2 separate regions of the Homo sapiens genome follow, and region 1 is linked to region 2. A link means that fine-mapping ties the variant in region 2 to the expression of a gene that starts in the linked region. Tissue or cell type: whole blood. Region 2 holds a variant in brackets; the other region holds the start of a gene. All regions are shown on one strand. Distances are between the middles of the regions.

The links. PIP is the estimated chance that this variant, and not a neighbour inherited with it, causes the effect.
Region 1: TTN starts here. The variant in region 2 is fine-mapped to the expression of TTN in whole blood (TOPMed, PIP above 0.99).

The regions. Positions count from the first base shown.
Region 1 is chr2:178,803,698-178,811,806 of GRCh38, forward strand. It overlaps TTN (titin), which reads right to left and starts at 3,726. Exons shown (of 363, transcript NM_001267550.2): 1 at 3,515-3,726; 2 at 855-958. The coding sequence starts at 945.
Region 2 is chr2:179,019,813-179,027,921 of GRCh38, forward strand. All of the region lies in intron 2 of CCDC141 (coiled-coil domain containing 141), which reads right to left. Among named protein-coding and RNA genes, the nearest start is that of CCDC141, 26 kb to the right of the region's middle. The variant CAAG/C (reference allele first, on the strand shown) is at 4,809.

The sequences.
Region 1 (8,109 bases), 220 kb before region 2:
TAAGCATGATTTTTTTTAATCCGTATCCATCTTACATGGCTCGTTACAATACTACAGAAAGAGAAAATATTGATTAATTTTAAAATTATTTACAATATAGTTCATACACTACTCTCCATTTTTTCATAAGATGATACCATGCATTTTTTTGAACCATCCATAAACTGAGTTATGAGGAAGAAAAAGAAGGCAAAAAAGAGATGAACTTCCTTTCAGATAAAATTCTAGGGTTAGTGTTTGCTTCCTTTTAAATAGAGACACCCGAGAAGCATATTATTTTCTGTCATTTCAAAACGATTGGAAAGTCTTTTAATTCATTAGAATCACTCAATAAAGATTGAAAATAAAATAATAAAATAATGAGGAGTTGGTTAATTACTGAACAGCTCTGCCTCTGAGGAAAATTAGATGCACTGTTATTTTGCGTGTGAACCAACTGAAGTTCAGGTGTCCAGAGCAGGCAGCCCAGACTGCCTACCCCATGGCTCTGTGGCTGGCTTCTATTGGGCTTGAGTTCTTGGCTTCCAGTCTGGCTCTGCAGCTGAGCCCAAATATAGAATGACTAAATTTGGTCCTATTTAGTTGCTGGATTCTAACGGCAATTTTAATCCAACACTAATTATTTTTGCTTTGTGGAATAATAAATATGAATAAAACATTTCAAGCCATTATATTGTCAGATTTTGTCAGTACTCTGTGAATGGTATACCCTTAAAATGACCTTTCCATAGTGTTGGACTAATTTTCCGAAGTGAAAGCAGGGCTTAAACTTGGCGTCAAGTCCTGCAGCAACGTTAACTTACTGGAGAGGAGGCAAAGGAAAAAAAAACAAAAGTGTGAATGTGTGAGCTTACCACTAATGTGAGCCTCAAAGGTTGCGGTACTACCCTCCAGTACCACAACGCTTTGTAACGGCTGCGTAAACGTCGGTGCTTGAGTTGTCATCTTTCTAGGCACTCTGAAAAAGAAGAGAAAATAAATTAGGGTGTCCCAGCTAAGGGTCACTCTGGAGCTGCTTTGCAGATAGCAGAGACACACGTTTCTCCAAATGGATTGCTCCATAGGTCATCTGTGGGCCTAGAGTGATGGGCAGGTCTTCTCTTTTGTGGCTTGAACAGTTTTGCATAGTTCATCATTGAGTTGACTTAAAGCCTAACCCAAAGTAGCAAGTGTAAGGGGAAATGGAAAAAAGTATTAGCCAAACAGAACAAGGAATGAACCCTAGTGGTCAAAGAGGGAATATACAGTCTTACCAATGGTGGAAAACCAGGTTCAGAGTTGAAGAAGAAAACCACAGCAATGCAGGGTTAGTGAAGTGTAATTAGAGAGACAAGACATGTGATAAATGTAAAATAAACCTCTGGGCCTGGCGTGGTGGCTCATGCTGGTAATCCCAGCACTTTAGGAGGCCGAGGCGGGAGGATTACTTGAGGTCAGGAGTTTGAGACCAGTTTGGCTAACATGGTGAAACCCCTGTCTCTACTACAAATACAAAAATTAGCCAGGCGTGGTGGCCCATGTCTGTAGTCCCAGCTACTTGGGAGGCTGAGGCATGAGAATTGCTTAAACCCAGGAGGTGGAGGTTGCAGTGAGCAAAGATGGTGCCACCACACTCCAGCCTGGGTGACAGAATGAGACTCTGTCTCAAAAAAAAAAAAAAAAAAAAATTAAAATAAATAAACCTCTGCATCAGCTTAGTAAGTGAAAATTATTTTAAAAATTTTCCTTCTCCCCAATATTTTTCGTTCACTCTATATTTATAAAGTTGACATTGATTCAGACATTATCTGATTACTTAAAATAGTTGCCAGAAGTAAAAATCTGAACTTTGTAATCTCTTTCCTGACTGGAGAAGCTTTGGCAAGCCTTATCAAATATGCAAGCTTTTTGTAGACGGCATACGGTGCTTTCTATTTCTTAACATTTCTTCATACTGTAACTGTGCAGTAAATGTTGTTACTGCTGAAGTAAATATTCAGAAAAATTTAAATTTTAGTGAACAGGCCAAAGTTTATTATAGTTCTGAAAGAAAAATGCTGGCTTGAGTTCTTAATATGGAACAATTTGCAAACTTTGAATAATGGAAGGCTGGTGTAAAATGTAGATGAAGTGAAAAGGCCTATGCTTTCATAAAGTAAAATATTCAACATCAAAGAAACGAATATAAAATTTGCAGTTAAGTCATTTTGTTAAGTGCAAGAAAGTACTTTGCCTATCAGTTTCAGAGACATTATGTGAAGAATTTTCTGATGCATAAATACCTAATTATTCAACATGACTATTCTGTTCTGAAATAGAACATTTCTGAATTGTCAATCACTTCATTACTATTTTTCATTAAATTCTTTGTTTACTAAAACTTCATGGAGCAATAATCTTCTTAGTGATAATTCTGTTCCTTACTGTAACCTTCTACTTAGTTAAAAAAATGAAACCAGCATTCTCTGAGACAATAAAATTTATATTTGGAAAAATCAGATAATATCCAAAAGCTTTCATAAATTTTTTTTGTCAGAAACTCCTTTTTGTAGCATATTATCTTTGGGATGAACAACTTTCTGTGTCTAACTTTGTCTGTTTATAAGTTAGTATATCTAAAAATAGCTGTCCTCTTAGACATAGAATACCTAATTATATATCTATGTATTTACAGGCATTGACAATTAGTAATCAAATTCTAGGAAGATGAGAAATCAAAGTGTATTTAGAAGTAAGAAACCTTTCCTTTAAACATTATTTCTTACCCTTCTTAGTGTCAACATTTATCTCAAAATATATAATTGGACTGTGTGCTGAGTTAAAATGCATGAAGAGATTCTGAATATTTTAGAAAACAATTATATCATTTTATTCCAAATCTCCAACTATGTTGCAATTAACCAGCTTAAATTGATCTTACATTCCTATTGTCTAGGTAAATTTTATTGCCTTAGCACTTGCTCTTCACAGGCCTTTGTCTAACTGGGGCTGAAGGTATGCGTCTAAAATGTCATGCTCTTAAAATAAACTCTCCTAAACTCTCCAAGGTTGACTGACAGCAGGCAAGTGTTCTGTCACTGTCCTGCAACTGATACCTCAGCAGTTGATTCCCTTAAAAAGTCATCAGGGTGTAGCTGATACCACATGCATTTTATCAGAGCTATTCTTGGTGTGCTTAACTTTATCATTGAGTAATATAACCTTGAACATTCTCAACAGGCAAAGAGAGTCTAGAAAAGAAGTAAACATTTCTCTCAACATTTCAGACCTCAACTTTTAGAATATTAAGTGAACTTAAACAATTTGAATCATGGAATCATTTAGCTGATATAATAAAGCTTTCAACTTTTTAAGGAAAAATGTTCAGACATTTTAAAATAGAATTTAACAAGCAGATTTAAATAATGGGTCAGCACTGGCAAGAAATAGTCATACAAACACTTGTACATAGGCATTTAGCACACACAAATAATCCAGAGCCAGAGATCAATAAGAAAGTGACTCTACTATTAAAATAAGAAAAGTTGCTGCTCACCTGATTTCTCAAGAGTGCCTAAAAAGGGTGGGACTAAGCCCAAGGTTGCTTCTGAAACGACGTCCTATGGAGAGTTGGTTTTTCTGACCATCTCCGACATGAATCGGTGAGCCTCTAATCCTAAAAACAAAACTACACAGTCAAGACTGTGTAGTTTTGCTTTTCTATGCAATCCCTACACCCGAGGCGAGGCTGGGAATGCACGACTGCTCAAGAGCCAGGGTCTGGCCTGCCCTTATATTCACCAGATCTGCTGACAGCCCCACATCCTTAGGCAGGGCCCTGGGTGATTGGCTGTCTTAGGAAAGCATGATGGGAGAGGACCTATTTGGTAGTGTCACATACCACCTGTTCTTCTGATTGACAGTGCTAAATTTAGTACCTCAAAGGAGACTTCACCAAGGAAATAGAACTGTATTTAAAGAATAACTGTGTTGAGGCTCAGAGAAGAGCATTGGTTGCTGATGTTAAAATCCGAAAATGCAGGTTTAAAGAGGTGTGACAGTAGATAGCACTTGTGGGCAGTCATACAAAAGAGCCCCAAACCTGAGGACTGTGCCCTGAGTCAGGCCCCAGTCCTGTTCCCTTCCCCCATAAAACAAACCAAATGGACCTGTCAATCATGACAGCAGATGAGGAAATTTATCTCAAGCATAAGGCTTCATGTTCTCTGAAGAATCAGTTGCTATAAACCTTAACGTTGAAGAGAGCTCATTTGTACTACCTACATTCTCCAGAATCCACTTGTATTTCGGGGACAGTTACACTGATGTTAATGAGCTTATTGCTTATACAACCCTGCAAGATATAATGTTGAAAGGCAAAATTGGAACTCTGCTTAGGTTAGTCTGTACAGTACAATGATTTCACCTTTGTCAGATTTCATTTTTGTCTGGCATTAATATTTACAAATATGTGTGTACTGCTCCTTAGTAAGTAGCCAGGTCTTATGCTTAAATCATCCATAAGGTTCCTTTTCCAGACACATGAATGCTGTTCTGCTAATCTCTGGAGTTTGCTGTTACTAATGGGAAGTGGATAGGAGGTGATATAGTTGCTATTTTAGGACTGAATTTAATTTCAAGCAAGAGATATTTCAAATAAAAAAGAGCACACCAAAAGATCTTTATAATGACTCAGCTGAGAGATTTGTGAAACTCTACTTAGAGGGAGGAAAATTGTCTTGTTGATAATGGAAAGAGACTTTTATCAATAAAAGAGACTAAAATTTTTAATTTAAGTTAAATTTCTTTATGTCTGTAATAAAAATATTCCCTGTTATGGAAGAATTTGGCCATGCATTAAACTTTTCAATTTCTTGAGTATTTCATATCTTGTATTTATTTATATAGTGATTAATATGTTAATGTTTAACAGTTTAAATTTACTGACAACTAATGTAGTATAGTTATGTTAACAAGATGACGCCATGTACTTATTTAAACATTTTTCTCCTTTACTTAAGTGGTGGTATCTGTATTGGTGGCACCATTTCCACCCCCATAGATGGCATCTGCTATAATTCTATTTGATTGCTTTATTCAGAAACAACTGGTTTCATATTATATACTTTGAAAATTATTCCCACTGAGAGATTTGTGTTACAAAGAATCTGCCAGTCATAAGGCAAAGAAACACTAGAAATGTATGATCTTTCTGTTTTGGAGTGTTCACCAATTGGCTATCTATTTAAGATACGTTTGTGCATATTTGTGTGTGGGTATGTAGTGTGCGTGTGTGTATTTTTAGACTCATTTGACCTAATGTGAAGCACATTAATGTTACGTTATGTTTGTTGGAACTAAAGTCAAATCATTTTAATTCTTACGGGAACTAGAGGGAAGAAGTGACTATAATCTGGAAGCCTGCGTCATCTTGACATGATGCAATTCAGGTAACTCAAGAGCCAAGAAGATGGACCATATGTTATAAACATAAAGTCAAGTGTCTGTCCTCTTAAGCTGATTGTCTAGTCACTGTTCTTAGACTTTTCTAGACCCTGCCTGCCAGCCTACATCTTTCTCCCGAGCTGGATGCTTCCTGCCCTCGAACATCGGACTCCAAGTTCTTCAGTTTTGGGGCTTGGACTGTCTCTCCTTGCTCCTCAGCTTGCAGACAGCATATTGTGGGACCTTGTGATTGTGTGAATTAATACTTAACAAACTTCCCTTTATATAAATATATATATGTATGTATATATTCTTCCCTATATACATATTAGTTCTGTCCCTCTAGAGAACCCTAATACACCTTGCAATATTGTCAAGATCCTTGCCTTTAGGCCTTTATATGTTTATGTGACATTCAGAATTAAGAAAAGAAAAAAATGAATGAACAAAAGAAAAAAGAAGAAAGAAAAGGAAAGAAGGGACCAGTTAGTAAATAACTAATATGCTGCTCTGAAAAAGAGTTCTTATTATTGGAATAGTAATGGACAGTATATGATATCATGGTATGCATTAGTTTTAAAATTAAATATGCCATCGTTAGAATTAGTAAACTAGTCTTGTGGAAACCAAATACTAGGCAGATTTGGGGAGTTTGCTGATGGAGTAAGATCTCAATTTACCACCCTAACAGTGGGGAGGAGCCACACAGATAATCCCAAACAGCTGATAATTCAAATGTAATGCCTACTTAATTTGGAATGCATGGCATGATTCTCTCTTTAAGCACAATATTCAATGAAATTCAATAAATATTTATTAAACATATAGTCAGTGCTGAGCACTGGGATAAATTATTACGATTTTGGATTCTGTCATTATTTATTGATTTGACAAATATCTACTGAGTGGTGACTTTGTGCTGGGCATTGTGCTAGTGATGGCTAGGCAGAGCTGACCAAGAAAAGACAGTTAGAATTATTGTGCTCTTAGAGATCATGGTCTACATCAACTCTTAGTGAATGCTCATTAATCTGTGACTGAGACCAAGTCTAGGATATATGTAAAACTCAGGCAGTAACTCCAACTACATAGTCAGACTTTGTTTACCTTATATAGGACCATTTACAAAGGAAGGACTTACTGGGAGTTATTCGAGAAATGGGTACAGTTTTGAAGGCCAATGCAAGGATACTAGAAGAGAGTAAAACTAATGTATCTTATGACTGATTAAATTTTTTTGTGTGTTCTTTTATTGTATTAAACACAGTTTAGGCACAGAGATCATAGCAATGCACACAACACACAAAAATACCTGCCCTCTAAGAGTTTACATTTTTGTTAACACAGTAATATTAAGTGATATAATATCTGTAATTTCCTTTCCACTCATAAAATATATCAAAGCTGAAATATAGGCTCATCATGGAGCTATTTTTAAACAAGGAAATAGAAAAGCAAATTCAAGAAGTGCACAGGGAAAAGCGTGCTGACAAAAACAATTTATTCTAATGGAAGACAGTCGTGTTCTTTGAGTTATAGAGGCGGAAAAAGCTACACTGGGAATGTGGGAGGCAAGAAATTGTTGCTTACAATTTAAAAGACTTATTGTCCCATTTTTTTCTACATCCAGTTATAATTTCTTTAGAAGCAAGATCAAATTAGGTTTCCACAACTATTTACAAGTGTACGAATAGTCACAGATGCATTTAACACCACATCGAATACAAAAAGATTATTTCAGACACGTAAGATATTTTTACCAAAGTAAGAAAGATAAAAAAATTAAAGTCTTGAATGTCTCAGTAGCACTGCTGTTAGGGGCACTTGGAATTTCTCTCCTATTCTACCTGGGTTTAGGCAACTCACTTGAATCTCTGTCTCAGATTTGTCAGTTGCAAATTGGAGATTATTATCTCGACTTCAAAGAGTTATTAGGAATATTAAATGACAGAATGAACGTGACAGTGTCCAGGACCATGAGAATCTGACACATGGTAGGCATTTTGTTTGTTTGCTGCTGCCAGGCATGACACTAAGAAAATAATTTCTGTGCTTGGTAGTATTGATTTGCTCAATTATCTCTGACTACCTGATAAAATATACAAGATAGTATTTTCTAAGAAATCTTTGAGAAGTCCAAAAGTGAGCTCATGGAATAAAGCACATGTCACGTCCTTCCCTGAAGGCCCTCAGAAGGTGACATGACACTTATATGTGGATTAAAGCAAAGCCCAAGAAATACTGGAATCTTAAAAAAGAAATAAGTTGGACTTCTGAAGGCCTGTGGCAGGAATCTATAAACCTGATTAGATCTAACCACCAGCAAATGCTCATTGGAGGTGATACTGCTGTCAAATATCAAGCTTTACACATGCTGAAGGGAGGCAACCAGGCTCATTTTTTCCAGTAACCACTGCAGACACGGCACCTGGGGACAGGGATTAAGGGCTCTTTCAGGGCCAAAAACATGTTTGGGAGCTGAAAAATAAGTTTTGCTTTGAAATACAAAAAGAAATCTGCAACAATGAAAATAATGGATATTTATCAAATACCTACAAAAGAAGATATGTCAACTAGTCAACTGCACTTGAGATTGGTATATTTCAATGCGTCTGACAAGCTCAGGGATGGATTTTCCAAAACTGAAACAGTCTCTGTGGGACAAAAATCTAAAAATGGCCCTCAAAGCTCTACAGTCTCAAAAAA
Region 2 (8,109 bases):
CTGGAGCGCAGTGGCATGATTATGGCTCACTGCAGCCTCAACCTCCTGGGCTCAAGCAATCTTCCTACCTTAGCCTCCCAAGTAGCTGGGACTACAGGCATGCATCACCATGCCCAGCTAATTTTTCGAGACAGAGTTTCACCATGTTGCCCAGGTGGGTCTCAAACTCCTGAGCTCAAGCAATCTGACCACCTGGGCCTACCAAAGTGCTAGGATTACAGGCATGGACCACTATGCCCAGCTGGAAAGATCATTTGATAGATAAGATAAGAGAAAATAGTTTCATATTTATTAGCAATAAAGACTGTTATAACCGTCATGTAGAATCCAAAAAGTTCCATAGAACGGGCATGTGTATTTCAAATACAGGTGTGTGGTTTTTTTTCTCTCACTCAACAATGTAAGGAGCTTTAGGGTTAAAATCCAAAAGCATAATTTTACCTAAATATTTTCCTACTCTTTGTCAGTTATGTAGTCCCCACACTCCTATCCAGTGTGCCAGAGTGCTACTCTGGGCTGATCAACACTGCCCCACGCAGGGGAACTAAGGATCTGCATGTCAGAATCCTCCAAGCTGGAACTGGGCCAGTCTTAGGCTTACCTAGAAATATACACCTGATCCCATGAGACCACGTTGGCTGTGATATGATAGCACTTCTCATGGGATCAGGTGTATATTTCTAGATAGCAGCAGGCTTCCATGCTCAGCTTGTGCCAGGAAGCCACAGGATCCAACATCATGGAAAGATCATGAAAATGAGATTTTAATCAGAGTGTGAGTCCCAGCTCAGCCAGTTAATAAACCTGAGCAAGTCCCTTAATCTCCCTGAGACTCAGCTCCCTTACCTGTGAAAATGAGTCCATACCACACTGGCCCTTATTATATATACTAAAATGAGACAATGATATGAAAGCAGTCTCTAAAGTAAGTATGCATGCATTTATGTAATGTTAATTATTCTAATCTAGTTTTATGTGGATTCTATGAAGATATTTTAGTGGTTACAGCTCAGTTACATGCAATGCTTATATTTCTACAGGCTTCAACATTTCCTGATGGCAGTTAGGGTTAGCCATAAATGTTGATGGAATAAATAAGCAAATACGTGGTATGATTTCAGGGATGTAAGGAAAACCTTGATGTTGATAACAAATCCTTTCTCACATGCGGGCTGATTAGCATGTGATTGTTAGCACATCACCTGGCTACTGTTCAGTCTTCCATAAAAGTTAGTAACTTAGCATAATCACCATCATTAATAGTAACCAAAATGTAAGATAATTATAAGATAATAAATACTTTGGAAATTACATACTTCCTTTTATAGGCATTTTATGCCTTTATTTCACTAAGAAGTAGGTTGTACCTTCCGTTGTAAACCATGCTGAATTTGATTTTGAGTTTACACATACTGCTGACAGGCATAATGAATTTCTGGCTTCAACTATTTTTTCTGGTGAAAGAGAAATGAACATACCACCACTTAATTTTAGCTATGCAAACCTAATTGCCCATGCCTATCTGAAGGGGGTGTTACCCTGTCCTATTTGTATAGGCTGCCCCTAATCCAAACTGGCACACAAATAACAGAACTAGTATTCTGATTGGCTTCAGTTTGAAATAGAAGCTGCAGCTAATGAGCTGCTGAAAACCTGAGGGTCACAGCTGTCCCGAGTGGAAATCACCTCTAACTGAAAGCTAGACCACAGCCCTCAGTGAATTGAGAATTCTTGTGTCAACTCTTTAATTTTCAGGGGCTCCTGTGCTAAAACCAAATGAGTAAAAGATGAAATGGTTCTGCCGTCAGTAGGAAATGTCAGTGACATACACAGTAACAGAAAGAGACAAAATTATGAAAAGCAACTTGGAAAATTCTGACATTGTATTGAATCAGTCCATTTGGATTTAAAAAATAAGGATTTGTGTTTTCTTGGTCACTCTTCAAACTAGAACCATTTATTAAAGGACCATAAAATCTGTTTATAATGGAAATGCCAGCTACAACTTAGTCCCTTTATAATTATGAGACTAAGTATAATGTAAATGGAACCAGATCAGATATTTTCTTCTCAGTTTACTGCAAAATAATTGTTCCAAAAATATTTCTTTTGCATAGGCCTAATAAAAGATAGTATTTTAAAACATTTCAATGCATCTAAAAGGCTCTACAACATTAATTCTTATAAATGCGTCTCCTTAATTTTTTCTTTTTGGATATTTGCGTACAAATGACTCTTCCATATCTGTTCTGTTAAATGAAGTAAATAATGTAATTAGAAATAATCTACAGGTGTATGGACCAAATAATTAATAGTAGTTTCTGCTGTTTGAGGGAGTGGTCTGTACGCTTGGATTTGTTTGGATTTCACTACCTTTTTTGCAGAGTTCTGTGGCCTTTCAAGTGACCGAAAAAACAGTCCTGGAAGCTTATCAAGAATACCATTGTGTGTTTTACTGGGGAATCTGAACTCTACCATGCTTGAATAAAATACAAAAATAGCAACAAAGAGAATAACACATTCCCTAAGACTTGATGAAAGCTAGAACAATAGGAAGTTTTTGTACCAAACAGAAAGATAAATAAATACGAGCACTAAGCTAACGTCTGTTCACAGGATGAAGCCAAAGCCGAGGAAAGAGGCAGCTTTTCTACCTTGAAGACCTAGCTCTCTTCCCTGCCCCAAACACTGTTCCGTCTCACGCCACTTATTCCCACAACCTTGTATTAAATTCTACCTTCCCCATGAAACCACTCCAGCTAAATTAATTTCTCTTTCTCCATGAATATGTCTATGGTACTTTCACGATCAGTGTCTTTCATCTGGGGACTTAATTACTCAGATAGTGCCTTGATGTTGTGACTTCACTGTTATTTAACTGCTTTGTGAGTCTACCAGGGTCATTTTGTTCTCTATATATTGTACATCATATATTTCTGGAGGCCAAGAATGCCTTTTACATTTTGTGTGTGTGTCCCTTCCAATGCCAAGGACAGAGGCACACAGTAGACAGGGAAGCTAGCCAGGTGGAGCAGAGCCATCTTGATGCTATGTGACGTGGTTCCTGCAAATCCTATGAGATCCACGGCCTCAGTATTGCTAACTGAGTGGTCCTTTTCAGTCAGCTGAGAAGTGACGCGTACCATCCCTATGACTCCCCCAAATAAGTGGGATCTCATACTACAGTTAATGATTGAAGGGCACACAGCATGCTGGGTATGGGGAATCGCACAAAGGCACACCACTGGAGTGGGAGCCCCAGCTCCATGGCTTCCTAGCTATATGACCAGGGCAAATGACTGTATATACATTTGTATATACACACTTGTGTATGTATTAGTTTCTTCAATTGTAAAATGGAGATTAAAAATAATAAGAGGTAATCATTCAGCACTTACTATGTGTGAAGCCTTGTTTCAAATTCTTTAAAGGTTTCAACTCACTAAATCCTCACATCCACCTTCTGAGGTAGGTATTACTACCTCCATTTCACAGATGAGGAAACTGAGGCAGAAAGAGGATAAGTAACTTCCCCAGAGTTACACAGCCAAGCAGCAACACTGGAATGCACATCCAGGCAGGCAGAGCATACATACAAAACTGCTAAGTTATGTTGCCTGTTATGAAATTTAACTCATATGATTTTTTAAATATTAAACAGATTAATACATTTAAAACATTTAAAATATATGTAATGTTTGAAATTAAATATTAAATTTTTAAAAGTGGTTCTCACTAGCAATCATGCAATAAAAGTCCACTGTGTTATGTTTATACATATATCACAACTTGGGCTCTAAATTTCTTACAACTAATTTAGACAAAAACTATCTTGAAAAGAACTTAATGTGCACCAACACAATCTCTGTCCTGAGGAAAACTTACACTCTTATGAGAAATATATACATATGTAAAAATATAAGCAAACTAACATTAAAAGCAATGCTAAATGATGAGGAAGAGCCTTGGAGCTGCAGGTGCCAAGTGCAAATGGCCCTGCTCTACCCACAGAGAGTCTTATCTCATAGAGGTCTGGAGAGCTGCCCTTTAACAGGTACCCAAGATTATATGAATGTAAATACTTCATAAACCATGCTTGATATACATTATACAGGCCATGCTTGTGTAAGTACCACATTAATGTGACACTGTACTGTGCATAATGAGACATTGGTTGAGAAACTCGGAGGAAACACAGTAGAGAAAGACAGGCCCGGCTTAGGTGAGGGCAAAGCTCAGGAGGCCATAATGGCATTCCAAAATGAGGACATCTATAATTTACAGGGAAATCCATCCTCTGGCTCAGTTAAAAGAAGAATAATGACACAAATCAGAAAAACTAACAGCATTAATTATTCATCCGTTCCACCATGTTCTCTTAGGAGCCCAAATGTTCCATACATTAATAATTGAATCTTCTTCAAACCCTCAGAACTGTTGCAAGCAAGAACAGCAAGGTATGTGAATACCATTTAAATCATTGCTATTTTGTTTCTTTACCCACATTCCTTTTTCGCATGTTTCTTTTGTTATTACACAGAGATGAACTGTTCCTGTGATTATGTCATGAATATATGTATTCATTCATTCATTCCTTTATTCATTCATTCCACAAACATTTGTTGTACATGTAATCCAAGCATGGTGCTAGGCTCTATGGATAGAAATATGTCCACAATCTCACAAAGATGAAAATGAAACACTCATGGTCTGTCATGAAACACATACTACAGTAGAAGTAGGTAGGCTGCAAGTTATAGAAGGTACTCAGAGGAGGTCATGGCCAGTAAGGTAAGTGGCAAGCTCTC[CAAG/C]AAGGTTTCAGAGAGCAATGATAATTTCCTCATTGTCAGAGCTCACGTCAGCTTCCTCAAACACACTGCTGTTTTCGACACTACTCAATACTTCTGTGTTAGAATTTCCTTTTCTCCAAATGTTTGTGATGGGACCCTGAATATTTTTGCCTCTAACTTTCCATTAGTCTCTTTTTCAATTCCATTGATGGCACTTTAATGTTGTTGTTTAATGGAAAAATGTTTCTTTGGGTTATAGTCAGAGCTTCTTATTCCTCATTGTGTTTTAGAATTACTGCAAAAACTTTTTAAAAAAAACATACAGGCACTCCAGCCTTTCTTTGCCTCTTTGGGTTTGGGGCCTGAATATATGAGTCCTGTGGTTTATTTTTTTAAGTTCCTCAGTTGATTCTGATGCCAGCCCAGTTGAGAATCACCTACTTAGGCCTTCCTTCCTCTTCTCTACTGCTCCTTACAGAGATTGTTCATTTTCTTTTTCTTTTCTTTTTTTTTTTAACTTCTACTTTAAGATCAGGGATACATGTGCAGGTTTGTTATATAGGTAAACTGTGTGTCACAGGGGTTCGGGATACAGATTATTTTGTCACGCAGGTAATCAGCATAGTGCCTGATAGGTAATTTTTTGATCTTCACCCTCAGATATGGTTTGGCTGTCTCCCCACCCAAATCTCATCTTGAATTGTAACTCCCACAATTCCCAGGTGTTGTGGGAGGAACCCAGTGGGAAGTGACTGAATTACGGGGGTGGGTCTTTCCTGTGCTGTTCTCATATAGTGAATGACTCTCACGAGATCTGATGGTTTTAAAACGGGAGTTGCCCTGCATAAGCTCTCTCTCTCTTCATCTGCTGCCATCCATGTAAGACATGACTTGCACCTCCTTGCCTTCTGCCATGATTGTGAGGCCTCCCCAGCCACATGGAACTGTAAGTCCATTAAGCCTCTCTCTTTTGTAAATTGCCTAGTCTTGGGTATGTCTTTATCAGCAGTGTGAAAATGGACTAATACAGTAAATTGGTACCAGTAGAGTGGGACATTGCTGAAAAGTTGCCTGAAAATGTGGAAGTAACTTTGAAACTAGGTAACAGGCAGGGGTTGGAAGAGTTTGGAGGGCTCAGAAGAAGACAGGAAAATGTAGGACAGTTTAGAACTTCCTAGAGACTTATGGAATGGCTTTGTCCAAAATGCCACAGTGATATGGACAATAAAGTCCAGGCTGAGGTGGTCTCAAATGGAAATGAGAACTTATTGTGTTTTAGCAAAGAGATTGGTGGTATTTTGTCCCTGCCCTAGAGATTTGTGGAACTTTGAACTTAAGAGAGATGATTTAGGGTATCTGGCAGAAGAAATTTCTAAGCAACAAAGCATTCAAGAGATGAATTGGGTGCTGTTAAAGGCCTTCAGTTTTATAAGGGAAGCAGACCATAAAAGTTTGGAAAATTTGCAGCCAGACAATGTGATAGAAAATAAAATCCCATTTTCTGAGGAAAAATTCAAGCTGGCTGTAGAAATTTGCATAAGTAATGAGGGGCCAAATGTTAATTCCCACACAATGGAGCAAATGTCTCCAAGGCATATCAGAGGTCTTCATTGCAGCCCCTTCCATCACAAGCCCAGAGGCCTAGGAGGAAAAAGTGGTTTCATGGGCTGGGCCCAGGGTTCCTGTGCTGTGCATAGCCTAGGGACTTGGTGGCCTGCATCCCAACCACTCTAGCCATGGCTGAAAGGGGCCAACATAGAGCTCAGGCCATGGCTTCAGAGGGTGCAAGCCTCAAGCCCTGGCATCTTCCATGTGATGTTGAGCCTACAAGTGCACAGAAGTCAAGAACTAAGGTGTGGGAACCTCTGCCTAGATTTCAGAGGATGTATGGAAACACCTGGATGTCCAGGCAGAAGTTTGCTGCAGGGGTAGGGCTCTCATAGAGAACTTCTGCTAGGGCAGTGCAGAAGGGAAATGTGGGGTCAGAGCCCCCACACAGAGTACCCCCAGCAGCAGTGCCTAGTGGAGCTGTGAGAAGAGTGCCAGTCTCCTCCAGGACCCAGAATGGTAGATCCACTGACAGCTTGCACTGCGCACCTGGAAAAGCCACAGACGCACAATGCCAGCTCATGAAAGCAGCCAGGAGGGAGGCTGAACCCTGCAAAGCCACAGGGGTGGAGCTGCCAAAGACCATGGGAACCCACCTTTTGCATCAGCATGACCTGGAGGTGAGACATAGAGTCAAAGGAGATTATTATGGAGCTTTAAGATTTGACTGCCCTGCTGGATTTTGGACTTGCATGGGGCCTATAGCCCCTTTGTTTTGGCCAATTTCTCCCATTTGGAATGGCTGTATTTGCCCAATGCCTGTACCTTCATTGTATCTAGGAAATAACTAAATTGCTTTTGATTTTACAGGCCATAGGTGTGAAGGGACTTGCCCCACCTCAGATGAGACGTTGGACTGTGGACTTTTGAGTTAATACTGAAATGAGTTAAGACTTTGGGGGACTGTTGGGAAGGCATGATTGGTTTTGAAATGTGAGGACATGAGATTTGCTAGGGGCCAGGGTGAAATGACATGATTTGCTGTGTCCCCACCCAAATCTTATCTTGAATTGTAACACCCACAATTCCCACACGTCATGGGAGGAACCCAGTGGGAAGTGATTGCATTATGAAGGCAGGTCTTTCCTGCACTGTTCTCATGATAGTGAATGAGTCTCATGAGATTGGATGCTTTTAAAAATGAGAGTTTCCGGCCAGGCATGGTGGCTCACGCCTGTAATCCCAGCATTTTGGGAGGCTGAGGCGGGCGGATCACAAGGTCAGGAGATCAAGACCATCCTGGCTAACACGGTGAAACCCTGTCTCTACTAAAAATACAAAAAAAATAGCTGGGCATGGTGGCGGGTGCCTGTAGTCCCAGCTACTTGGGAGGCTGAGGCAGGAGAATGGCATGAACCCGGGAGGTGGAGGTCGCAGTGAGCCAAGATCGTGCCATTGCACTCCAGCCTGGGCAACAGAGTGAGACTCTTACTCTCAAAAAAAAAAAAAAAAAAAAAAAAAAAAAAAAAAAGTTTCCCTGCACAAGCTCTCTCTCTGTCTGCTGCCATCCATGTAAGATGTGACTTGTTCCTCCTTGCCTTCCACCATGATTGTGAGGCCTCCCCAACCATGTGGAACAGTAAGTCCATTAAACCTCTTTCTTTTGTAAACTGCCCAGTCTTGGTATGTCTTTATCAACAGCGTGAAAACTAGCTAATACACCCTCATCCCATTGTTCACCCAAAATTAGCCCTGGTGTTTGTTGTTCCCT